3 linked regions of the Homo sapiens genome follow. The gene in region 2 interacts genetically with the main gene of each other region. Each region holds a gene or a part of one and is shown on either strand. Other genes may lie near its edges. The genes, in order: RIN1, RB1 and DDX19A.

Region 1 (3,750 bases), on a different chromosome or scaffold from region 2:
GGGTCACTGCAACCTCTGCCTCCCGGGTTCAAGTGATTCTCTTGCCTCAGCCTCCCCAGTAGCTGGGACTACAGGTGTGTGCCACGACGCCTGGCTAATTTTTGTATTTTTAGTAGAGACGGGGTTTCACCATGCTGGCCAGGCTGGTCTTGAACTCCTGACCTCAGGTGATCCACCGGCCTCGGCCTCCCAAAGTGTTGGGATTACAGGCGTGAGCCACCAGGCCCAGCCCAGAGTTTCTTGAGAAGAAAAACCACAAGACCCAGGCAGCAGCTCCCTGTGGTGCCCCATCACTGGGGAGGGCAGGGAGGGGGTCAGGTCATGCTGAGCCTGGCAAGGGTGGGAAGGGCTTGTAGAGGCCCCAGAGCCTCATTCCCATGAGGCCAGTTGTACATCCGGCCCCTGGGATCCTCCGAGCACCCTCTACAAACATTCCAGGTCCTTCCTCTGGGACTGAGCTTGACACATCCCGTGTTTGATTCCCAGAACCGAGTCCTCCCTTATACTCCCCAGGTTTCTGCCTCACTGTCCCTCACTCCTGGTTATCAAACTCCAATCAGTGAACAACATTTATTGAACACCTATGGCATTTGTGCTCAGCATTGGACTGTGTGAGGCACTAGGGGTGAGTGGTGAAACAGGGAGGGGAATAGAAGAGCCAACGGGACACTTCCTATCAGCGAGAACCTTGGGAGGGCGTGGAAGTGGGGAGGGAAGAGCTGCTGGTGGCCTAGTGACAAAAAAAATGGGAGCCGTGCAACTGGGCTGTATCTGGACTGCTCATCTGAAAGTCAATGTCTGGCTGGGTGTGGTAGCTCACGCCTGTAATCCCAGTACTTTGGGAGGCCAAGGCGGGCGGATCACCTGAGGTCGGGAGTTTGAGACCAGCCTGGCCAACATGGGGAAACCCCGTCTCTACTAGTAACACAAAAATTAGCCAGGTGTGGTGGTGCACACCTGTAGTCCCAGCTACTCGGGAGGCTGAGGCAGGAGAATCACTTGAACTGGGAGGCGAAGGTTGCTGTGAGCCGAGATGGCACCACTGCACTTTAGCCAGAGCGACAGAGCAAAACTCCATCTCAAACAAACAAACAAACAAAAAAACCCAAAAAGCCAATGTCCACGATTTCTACCTCCCAGTTGTCATGTCTGACATTTGGGCTGACGTCCCCTCTGTGCTCAGTGCCCGAGGAGAGAGCCTCTGGGGTCATCCTCCATAAGGGGACAATTCCTTCCTTCCTGGGGATGGCCCCCAAGAGGCTGGCCTTACCCAGACCCCAGAATCTAAGGGACCTGGGGGCCAGTGGCCTTGGCCCCTGCGCTGTCCCCAGGTTGCCTGATGCTGCTGGACTGCAAGGCCCGGGACCCCCTCTGCTGCTGCAGCCTTGGAGGCGCCCTCACCCCTGGGTGGTCACCCTCTCGGCAGATTCCCGGGCCGTGCACACCCCCTCGTGGTTGGTGGTCGGCACTTTTCCTTGTTTGGATTTGCTGCCTGCTCTGGGCTTCCTTGGGGGCTGCCCCGGCCTTTGTGGGTGGCTTAGAATGGAGGGTGGAGTTGGAACCTGATGCCCTGGTTTGGGCGGGGGAACCCTTAAGGACTTGCTATATGACATCCTGGGAGTCACTTTCCTGACCCTCAGTGGGCCCAACAAGTCATGGCCAAGTAAAGCTTTTGTGAGGGCCAAGAGTTTAGTGCAGAGAGCATGGTTTCTGAGCCCCCTCTCCATTCTGGAAGCTTATCTGCCAGCTGGTGGATCTCCCCAGAGATGCTGGAGGGCCTGGGAGGACTCCAAATCTTGGGGAGAGACTGTAACTTGGGTACTTTCTCCCCAGGGCCTGATTTCCAGGGGAATAACCTCCCTGAACTGGGCATCAGCAGGTGGGAGCCCTGTCTGGCAGAGAGCGGACTCCGGGAGAGAGTTAGCAGCCCAGCTCTCTCCCTCCCTTTCTGCCATGAGCTCTGCTTGTAGCAAAATCACCCATTTTGATCACTGGGACACTTCTGGGAGCCGAGCAGGGCAGCAATAGTGTCCCCACTTTACAGATGAGAGTACTGAGGCTTGCAGGTGCAGGTCCTTCTGGTGTCCAGGACAGGGGTGGGCCCCAAGCCTTTGCTGCTGTTCTGTGGCCTCTCTAAATCCTCCTGACACCTAAGAGCCATTGGAACCTTTTAGGGTCTGGAAGTCCCAGCCTGGTGGGAGATACTTGGGTGGAGCCCTGCCTCAGCCATGCCCATGAGGGGAAGGGTAAAAGGAGCTGAGACCGTCACCCTCCCCACGTCAGAGGTTGGGCATCTGTCGGATTCGCCCCCACTTGGCACACCCTCATTGCAGGCTGGCTCACCCTCAGCTGGGGGAGAAGAACAAGAGGCAAGGGGCCTTGGGCACACAGTCTGGGGGCCCCCGAAGCCCCCTCATCTTTATTCCAGTTCCTCAGATGTGGCAGTTCCCCCAGCTTCCCTGGAAACAAGTATCAGACAAAGGTGGTGGCAGACACAGGACAGGGCCCTGGGTGGGGCTTGCTGGCGCTAAAAGGATTTCTCAGCAGGCTCAGGGTCTCCCGCCCCGAATGACCCTTCTGGCCACTTCAAGCTACTCCTCTGCTGCCCGGCTTCCCTCTGCCTCTGGTTCCCCTGGCTGAGCAGGGCCTTCCTGGGCTTGACCCTGGCCCCCTTCAGCAGTTGTCTCAGACTGTTCCCGAATGTCCCTGGGGCTGGCTTTGACCCCAGCATCCCCATCTCCCTGGCACCCTTGCTCCTCCCCTCTGCTTCTTGCCTCTGACTGCCCACTGCCCTCCTCCTCTGTCACAGCCCCCTGGGTCTCAGGCCACTCCGCCCGGCGGTAGACGAGGTAGCCAGTGGTGGGCAGCCTGTGGGCCAGGGCCCCAGGGGGCAGGCGGTGGTAGCCCTGCTCCTTGTACAGGAAGAGGCCAAAAGTGTTGGGCTGGGTCACTCGGAACTTGGTGGCACAGAGCTGGTTCAGGGTGGCAATCGAGGCTTCTGGGGGCACGGCCAGGGTCTTGGAGGTGCAGCCACTGCTGGGATCCTGATAGGCTACTCGGAGGAGGTGCTATGCAGGAGGAGAAGCAAAAACAAGTACTCAGCCCCGGCTGGCATGCATCTGGCTCCAAAGCTGAGACATCAGCTTTCTGGGCTGTGCAGGGACAGGGTGGGTAGGTGGAGATCCAGTGGGAGAACCAAGCGGCAAAAGCTCTATGTGCTCCAGGGGTCGGCTTGTGGGCCACAGCCGCAGGTGCAAGGACAGCCCAGTGGGGCGCTCACAAGCCTGAGATGAAGATTTGATAGTGAGTAATTTGTGCCCCAAGCACTCTCCTGCATTAACTCATTTAATCTTCACCTCAACCCCAGGAGGTAGGTCCTATTACCCCATTTTACTGATGAGAAAACTGAGGCACGAAGTAGTTAAGTAACTCGCCCAAGTCCCCACAACCCAGTGGCAGAGCCAGGATTAGAACCCAGGATCTGTCTACAGAGTCTGGACTCTTCACCAAGGACAGGAAGGTGAAAGGCGGGGATGGCGTCTGGCTCTGAGGACACGGTGGAGGGCCTGTTACCTGGAAGCAGTGGGTGGCAGGCAGGCGGCGCTGCTCCCAGAGGCTGAGGGAGCGCCGTAGCTCCTGCACGGGGCTCAGTGGGAGGGTGTGGGCCTGACCCAGGCCACTCAGCAGGGCCAGGCTGGCAGAGAGGCTGGTCAGGTAGTAGCCACCTGGGACACAGGGTGGAAGAACACG
Region 2 (3,650 bases):
GGGCGACAGAGCGAGACTCCGTCTCAAAAAAAAAAAAAAAAAAAAAGAATAAACATACAGAGCAATGGAATAGAACTGAGACTCCAGAAATAAACCCTGGTTTTTATAGTCAACTGATTTTCATCAAGGGCACCAAAACAATTCAATGAAGAAAGAATAGTCTTTTCCATAAGTGGTGCAGAGACAACTGGATATCCACATTCAAAAGACTGGAGTTAGACCTCTTCCTCACATCATACACAAAAATTAACTCAAAAAAAAAAAACAAAAAAAAACCCAAGACTGACAAGAACTAAAAACCATATGACTTTTAGAAGAAAGCACAGAATAAGTCTTCATGACCTTGGGTTAGTCAAGGCCTTCTTAGATACAACATCAAAAGCCCAAGCAACCAAAAAAAAAACCACCACCAAAAAAAAAATAGAAAACTGGACTTCATCAAAATTAAAATCCTACGCTGCAAATGACATCATCAAGAAAGTGAAAAGGCAACTCACAGAATGGGGGGAAAAGTCTGCAAATAATATATCTTATAAGAGATATGCATAAAGGAGAAGCTTTAACTGCATCTTAAAAACAGAATTTAGGCTAAAAGAAAAAAGAAGGGTATTCCAAAAAAAGGGGAGATCGCATGAATATGAATACTATCATATTCATATGGAAGATATTCATATGGAAGATTCATATGGAAGGGAAGAGAACACAGGCATTGGGGGCCAACAATGGAAATAAAAAATAAGACTGGAAGGAAGGTTAAAGCACAGACCATGAAGAACTACAAATACTGAGAAAGTTTGGACTTTACTTCTTCATAATGGTGGTGGGAGCATGGGAGGGTGTTACAATGGAGGCTACTGAGAGTGGGTTGTAACAATGAAAAATAAATTTTAAAGCAAAAGGGGCAAACTGTACACCAGTCTTTTCTAAAAATCAGGCACAGGATGGATTGGATGGAGAAAAGAAGAGACTAGTCAGAAAGAGGCACTAAAACATGCATAAAAAATGCTCAAGTCAATGACATAAGCTTCCACCTTCTGAAATTAAAAAAATAAAAAGGAAATTAAAACCAAAGCAAACAGTAAAAACCAAGCACTGCTGGTAAAAGAAATGAAGGGACAGACGTGAGAGGCAATGCAAAAAGATAACTTGAGACTGAACGGATAGGTTTAAAATAGAAGGAGTCTGGTATAGTTTTAATTAGTCCTATGGACAGACACTGAATACCAAGGTAAACCTGTAAAGAAAGCAAATGGTAGTGTAAAATTCCACTTCTTCCTAGAATGCAGAAAGCTGCAAAGAGTATTGCTCCCACCCTCACAACAAGAACAAGCCAGATAAGGAACAAAAACAACCTTTCTTGAAATCAACATATCCTTTCCTTATATTTCAGATTATTTAATTTCCCCTAAAAAAAGGAACCTCCAATGAGAGAAAAGATATAAATAATGGCTCATCTGTGGCACAACATGAAAGGAAGAGACACAGGGAACCCTAACAAAAGTAAAAAGTATTCAGCTAAAAATTTTTAATGAATGCTGATTACAAAACAACAAAAATCCATTTAAATATAAAAAAGAAATAGGTTAAAATCAAAATGAAGGTAAACGATACACATTGTAAAGAGTGATCACAAGAAAAGTGGAATCGATATGTGGACACTGCAGAACAAAAGATATAAATTTGGATAAAAAAGCACATTACATAATGATAAAGGTACCAATTTACCTAAAAGGCATAAAAATTCTAAACTTGTATGTACCCAAGGATAAAGCTTTAAAATACACTAATAAAGGCCAGGCACAGTGGCTCACGCCTGTAATGCCAGCACTTTGGGAGGCCGAGGGCAGATCATGAGGTCAGGAGTTCGAGACCAGCCTGACTAACACGGTGAAACCCCGTCTCTACTAAAAATACAAAAATTAGCCGGGTGTGGTGGCGCATGCCTATAATCCCAGCTACTCGGGAGGCTGAGACAGGAGAATCGCTTGGACCCGGGAGGCAGAGGTTGCAGTGAGCCGAGATCGTGCCACGCACTCCAGCCTGGGTGACAGAGCAAGACTCCATCTCAAAATAAAATAAAATAAAAAATACATTAATAAAAAACAGAATTTAAAAGGACCATTCTAATTATAGTTGGAGGCTTCATATTTCTCCCTCAATAATTAGTAAAACACATAGAAAGAAAATCAGTAAGGATATGGATGATCTACTGTACCTTTTCTATGTATAGATATACAAATACTTACCATTGTGTTACAATTGCCTACAATGTTCAGTACAGTAACATGCTGTACACATTTGCAGACTAGGAGCAACATGCTATATACCACACAGCATAGGTGTGTCATAGGCTATACCATCCAGGTTTGTGTAAGTACATGCTATGATGTTCACACAACGATGAAATCACCTAATGATGCATTTCTCAGATGTGTTCCCATTGTTAAGCAACACATGACTGTATTTATTTAAAATATAACCACCATATCACAAAAATAAGTAAGTGGTTCTATCAAGAGCAATATATCCCAAAGCTCTTTGAGATATGTATATCATACATTTCATATACATATATATGTATGTATAACAAAAAGCCTATGAGGTTCACATTCAGGCATTATTTCTGCCTTACAGGTGAGCAAACTGAGACTCACAGAATTAACCAATTTGCCTAAAATCATATAGCTACAATATAATTACAACCAAAGTTTCCTGCCTTGAGGTCCAAGGCATTTTCCATTCTACCATACTACCAATCAAGATGCAGAAAGTAAACCAAAATTCTAACAGCTGATTCACCTTAAGTCACAATATGAACATCACCTTAGCCAATTTCTTAATGGAAAGTCCTATTCATATGCTATAATCAGCATAAATACAATCTAACCTTATGAACAAAGCTAATCTTTATTATTACACTTTACTAAATATTTATTTTAAAAAAAGAAAACACTTTTCTAGACAAAATACCACAAACTTTTCCTTTAAAGGGATTAATATATGCTTTCATGTATGCATAAACAACTTTTCTGATGCTAAAGTACTTAAAAATAAGAATTTTAACAAACATTACTACATCAAAATCACTACAATGCATTTAAAATTGTAACCATTTTAACTGATATCCTAAGTTCTCCTAAAAAAAAATACATCAATGATAAAATTTTCTGGGGTATTTCTTAAGTAAAATTATTCTGTTTGCAAGACCTAATATACATACTCATTGACTCTAATAAGAGCTTTATATGCATTAATTTATTTAATCTGCACATAACTCCAAGATCCAGAAATTACTGTCAGTCCCTTTTACAGGTAAGAAAACTAAGGCTTGAAAATTGTAGATAACATGTTCAAGATAATGGAGTTCGGACATGGTATATCTGTTTGACTCTTAATCCTTGCTCTTAACCCATCCTCTATCCCAATAAACATCACCTACTTTCTATTGTTAAAAAGGGTTTCCTTTTTGACAATATTCCTCCTCTTGTTTCAAAGAAGAGAGACAACTGCCACTAGAATAGCTGCACTGGAAACACATTTATTCTGTCATTACATTTGCTTCTTAGAACACACTGTATCACATTCTCCCTTAGATATTATTATATAAATGAAGGTTAAATTCTCAGGCCAAACCTCAAAAACGTAACTCT
Region 3 (3,750 bases), on a different chromosome or scaffold from region 2:
CCTTATTTTAAATTCAGAACAGCCAAACCTGAACTCACCATTCCCTTTTTTCTTTTTTTGAAACAGGGTCTCACCGTCACCCATGCTGGAGTGCAGTGGTGTGATCACAGCTCACTGCAGCCTCAACCTCCCTAGGCTCAGGTGATCCTCCCACCTCAGCATCCTGAGTAACTGGGACTACAGGAGTGTACCACCACCCCGCCCAGCTAATTTTTTTTGTATTTTTGTAGAAATGGGGTTTCGCCATGTTGCCCACACTGGTCTTGAACTCCTGGGTTCAACTGATCTGCCTGTCTCAGTTTCCCAAAGTGCTAGGATTACAGGTGTGAGCCACTGTGCCCAGCCTTCACCTCTTTTTTTTTTTTTTTTTTTTTTTGAGACAGAGTCTCACTCAGTAGCCCAGGCTGGAGTGCAGTGGCGTAATTTTGGCTCACTGCAACCTCCACCTCCCAGGTTCAAGCAATTCTCATGCCTCAGCCTCCTGAGTAGCTGGTATTAACAGGGGACGACTACCACGCCTGGCTAACTTTTGTATTTTTAGTAGAGACAGGGTTTCACTATGTTGGCCAGGCTGGTATCAAACTCTTGACCTCGAGTGATCTGCCCGCCTCGGCCTCCCAAAGTGCTGGGATCACAGGTGGGTGCCATCATGCCCGGCTGCCTTCACCATTCTATCAAATCTGCCCTTCCTCCCACTTTCCTATTCCTGTTATTGGGACGTTAGTAGTACCAATAGGATCCAGGTTGAAAACAGAAACCTTTGGCTTTATCTCCCTTCTCTCCTTTATTATGTTAGCAAGTCCTACCCATTCTACCTTCATATCTTATACCCATCCCTTAATTTTCACTTCCACTGCCCAACATAGGCCCTCTATCTCGGGGCTATCAGAATAACTTCTACACTGATATTTCTATTAGCCATCACTTCTAACATATTCTGTTCTCTGTAGTTCAATAAATCCTTGCCAGCCTTGTCTAATTCTGTCAATAGCCCTCTCAAAAATCCCCATACCGGCTGGGCGCGGTGACTCACGGCTGTAATCCCAGCACTTTGGGAGGCCGAGGTGGGCGGATCACTTGAGGTCGGGAGTTCGAGACCAGCCTGACCAACATGGAGAAACCCCGTCTCTACAAAAAATACAAAATTAGCCGGGCGTGGTGGCGCATGCCTGTAATCCCAGCTACTCGGGAGACTGAGGCAGGAGAATCGCTTGAACCCGGGAGGCGGAGGTTGCGGTGAGCCGAGATGGCGCCATTGCACTCCAGCCTGGGCAACAAGAGCAAAACTCTGCCTCAAAAGAGAAACAACTACAACAAAAAAAAAGACAGTCCATTATCACTAAACAAACCTAAAGTTTAGGTCTTAGATATAAGAACAGAAAGCCACAGTGTATGCTGTAATTACATTCCAGTTGAATGAATATTCATTACTGAAAGAACAAGTACATGAAACCGTTACTTTACACATCAATGAAACAATTTGTAGTGCCTCCTTCCAACATCTGCAGTAGATTGAGGTATTAAATCCAAAAGTCAATCTGTTATTCTGCAAAGAGCTACAAACTACCAACCACGTTAAGCATGGATCTAAGAAATGTTAAATACAGAGTAGTACAGAAACATGCGAAGAACAGTCGCGTAATGAAAAAGAGAATCAGAATCTAAACTTGGCTTTCCTTATAATCGTCACCGAGGAGGTCAATAGAGGAATGACAGCATGCATAGTGGGGCGGATTTACCAAAGGATGAAGTCCTTAACCAGCCCAGATGGAGATAAAAAGCTCGACATTGGTCTCTTTAGCTCTAAGAGCAAATCAAGGGCAAGTGACTGCCCTAGCAAACTGCAGGAGCGCGTTGCCCAGGGGCCTCCCCAACCCGGGGAGCTCCCTGTGCTTTTGGGAGGTTTCGCTTGGGCCCCTGCTACGTCCTCCTCGCCAGGAGCTGAGCTACTGACCGACTTGACAGCCGCTTCCTGCTCGTCCACCGCCAGGGCCCACGAGTCGGTGGCCATAGTCCCGGACAAGGGAGACCCACTTGTGAAAATATGCGCTGCACCACGTCGCAACGCGGGCCCTAACCTCGCCACCGGCGCGAGAATGCACCTCACGCGGACCGGAAGCGGCGGTGAGCACAGGTGACGTCAGTTCCCACCCAGCGTGCGACATCATCATTCTGCGCGGCGCCAGGTCTCTCCTCGGGCCTCGCCTTTCCCTTCGTGCGCAAACCTCGCGCTTTTTGCTCACCCTTCCAGGACGCGGCCTCCTCGCTTCTTAAAATGTCTGAGCTCTACGAAGTGGAACTGTTAGCCCTCCGTTTATTGCCTTACTTCACACTGAAATAAGCCAACGTTTATTTTATTTTATTTATTTTATTATTTATTTTATTATTTTTTTTCGAGACGGAGTCTCGCTCTGTCCCAGGCTGGAGTGCCGTGGCGGGATCTCGACTCACTGCAACCTCCGCCTCCGTGTTCAAGCTATTCTACCTCAGCCTCCCGAGTAGCTGGGATTACAGGTGCCCGCCACCACGCCCGGCTAATTTTTGTATTTTTAGTAGAGATGGGGTTTCACCATGTTGGCCAGGCTGATCTCGAACTGCTGACCTTGTGATCCTCCCGCCTCAGCCTCCCAAAGTGTTGGGATTACAGGCGTGAGCCACCGCGCCCGGCCCCCAACGTTTCTTTTTAAGCCTGTCATATCTCACATTAAATGTGTAAGTCTCTGAACTGTAGGGCTTTGAACAAAGGAAAGTTCCATGAGAATACTATATGATGCCAATTTCTACTGTTAGGAACGCGATAACAGGTAAGAAAACAAAAACCAAAACGCAACAGAAGACCCGTAAACCCCATAATTCCACCATCCAATAAACACAACACACAATGCGTTTTTTCGTTTCTTTTTTGAGTCAGGGTCTCATTGTGTCGCCCAGGCTGGAATGCAGTGGTGTGATCTCGGCTCACTGCACCCTTGACCTCCCACCTCAGCCTCCCAGGTAGCTGGGCCCACAGGCCCGCACCACCACTCCTGGCTAGTTTTTAAACTTTTTGCAGAGACGGAAGTCTTCATTATATTGCTCAGGCTGCTTTTGATCTCCTGCTAACTCCAGAGATCCTCCTGCCTTGGCCTCTCAAAGTGTTGGGATTACAGGCATGAGCCACCACACCTGGCCATTATGTTGAAGGACCACCAAATACATAATGTATAATCTATTTATATGAGATTCAAGAATAGGACAAATAAAATCTATGCTGATAAAAACTAACAGAGCTTACCTGTGGAGAAGGATGTTTGGTCCAGACACAAGAGAACTTCCTGGGTGATAGAATTATTCTGTATCTTGATTGGGACCTGGTTACATAGATGTGTAAATTTGTTAAGTCATGCTACTTTGTATTTCTAAACTCATGGAACCATTATTTACAGATATCACCCAGGCTGGAGTGCAGTGGCCGGGTCTTGGCTCACTGCAACCTCTGCTTCCTGGATTCAAGCGGTTCTCCTGCCTCAGCCTCCCAAGTAGCTGGGATTACAGGCACACGCCACCACGCCCAGATAATGTTTGTATTTTTAGTAGAGATGGAGTTTCACCACGTTGGCTAGGCTGGCCTTGAACTCCTGAGCTCAAGGATCTGCCTGCCTGGGCCGCCCAAAGTGCTGGGATTACAGGTGTGAGCCACAGTGCTGACCTGCTTTTTCTTTTTTATAAGCAGTTCCCAAGGAAGAATAACTGTTTTTGTTTGTTTTTTGT

What was found.
Region 1: changes in RB1 (region 2) and RIN1 together harm fitness more than expected from each alone (negative genetic interaction), as found in Homo sapiens cells (one large-scale study listed by BioGRID).
Region 3: changes in RB1 (region 2) and DDX19A together harm fitness more than expected from each alone (negative genetic interaction), as found in Homo sapiens cells (one large-scale study listed by BioGRID).

Annotation. Positions count from the first base shown.
Region 1 is NC_000011.10:66,329,685-66,333,434, forward strand, and holds the end of RIN1 (ras and Rab interactor 1), read right to left. Parts: intron 3,726-3,750; coding exon 3,574-3,725; intron 3,069-3,573; coding exon 2,592-3,068; 3' UTR 557-2,591; downstream 1-556. UniProt on the Homo sapiens protein: Ras effector protein, which may serve as an inhibitory modulator of neuronal plasticity in aversive memory formation. Can affect Ras signaling at different levels. First, by competing with RAF1 protein for binding to activated Ras.
Region 2 is NC_000013.11:48,310,142-48,313,791, reverse strand, and holds part of RB1 (retinoblastoma-associated protein), read right to left. Parts: intron 1-3,650. UniProt on the Homo sapiens protein: Tumor suppressor that is a key regulator of the G1/S transition of the cell cycle. The hypophosphorylated form binds transcription regulators of the E2F family, preventing transcription of E2F-responsive genes.
Region 3 is NC_000016.10:70,345,253-70,349,002, reverse strand, and holds the start of DDX19A (ATP-dependent RNA helicase DDX19A), read right to left. Parts: upstream 2,101-3,750; 5' UTR 2,012-2,100; coding exon 1,955-2,011; intron 1-1,954. UniProt on the Homo sapiens protein: ATP-dependent RNA helicase involved in mRNA export from the nucleus.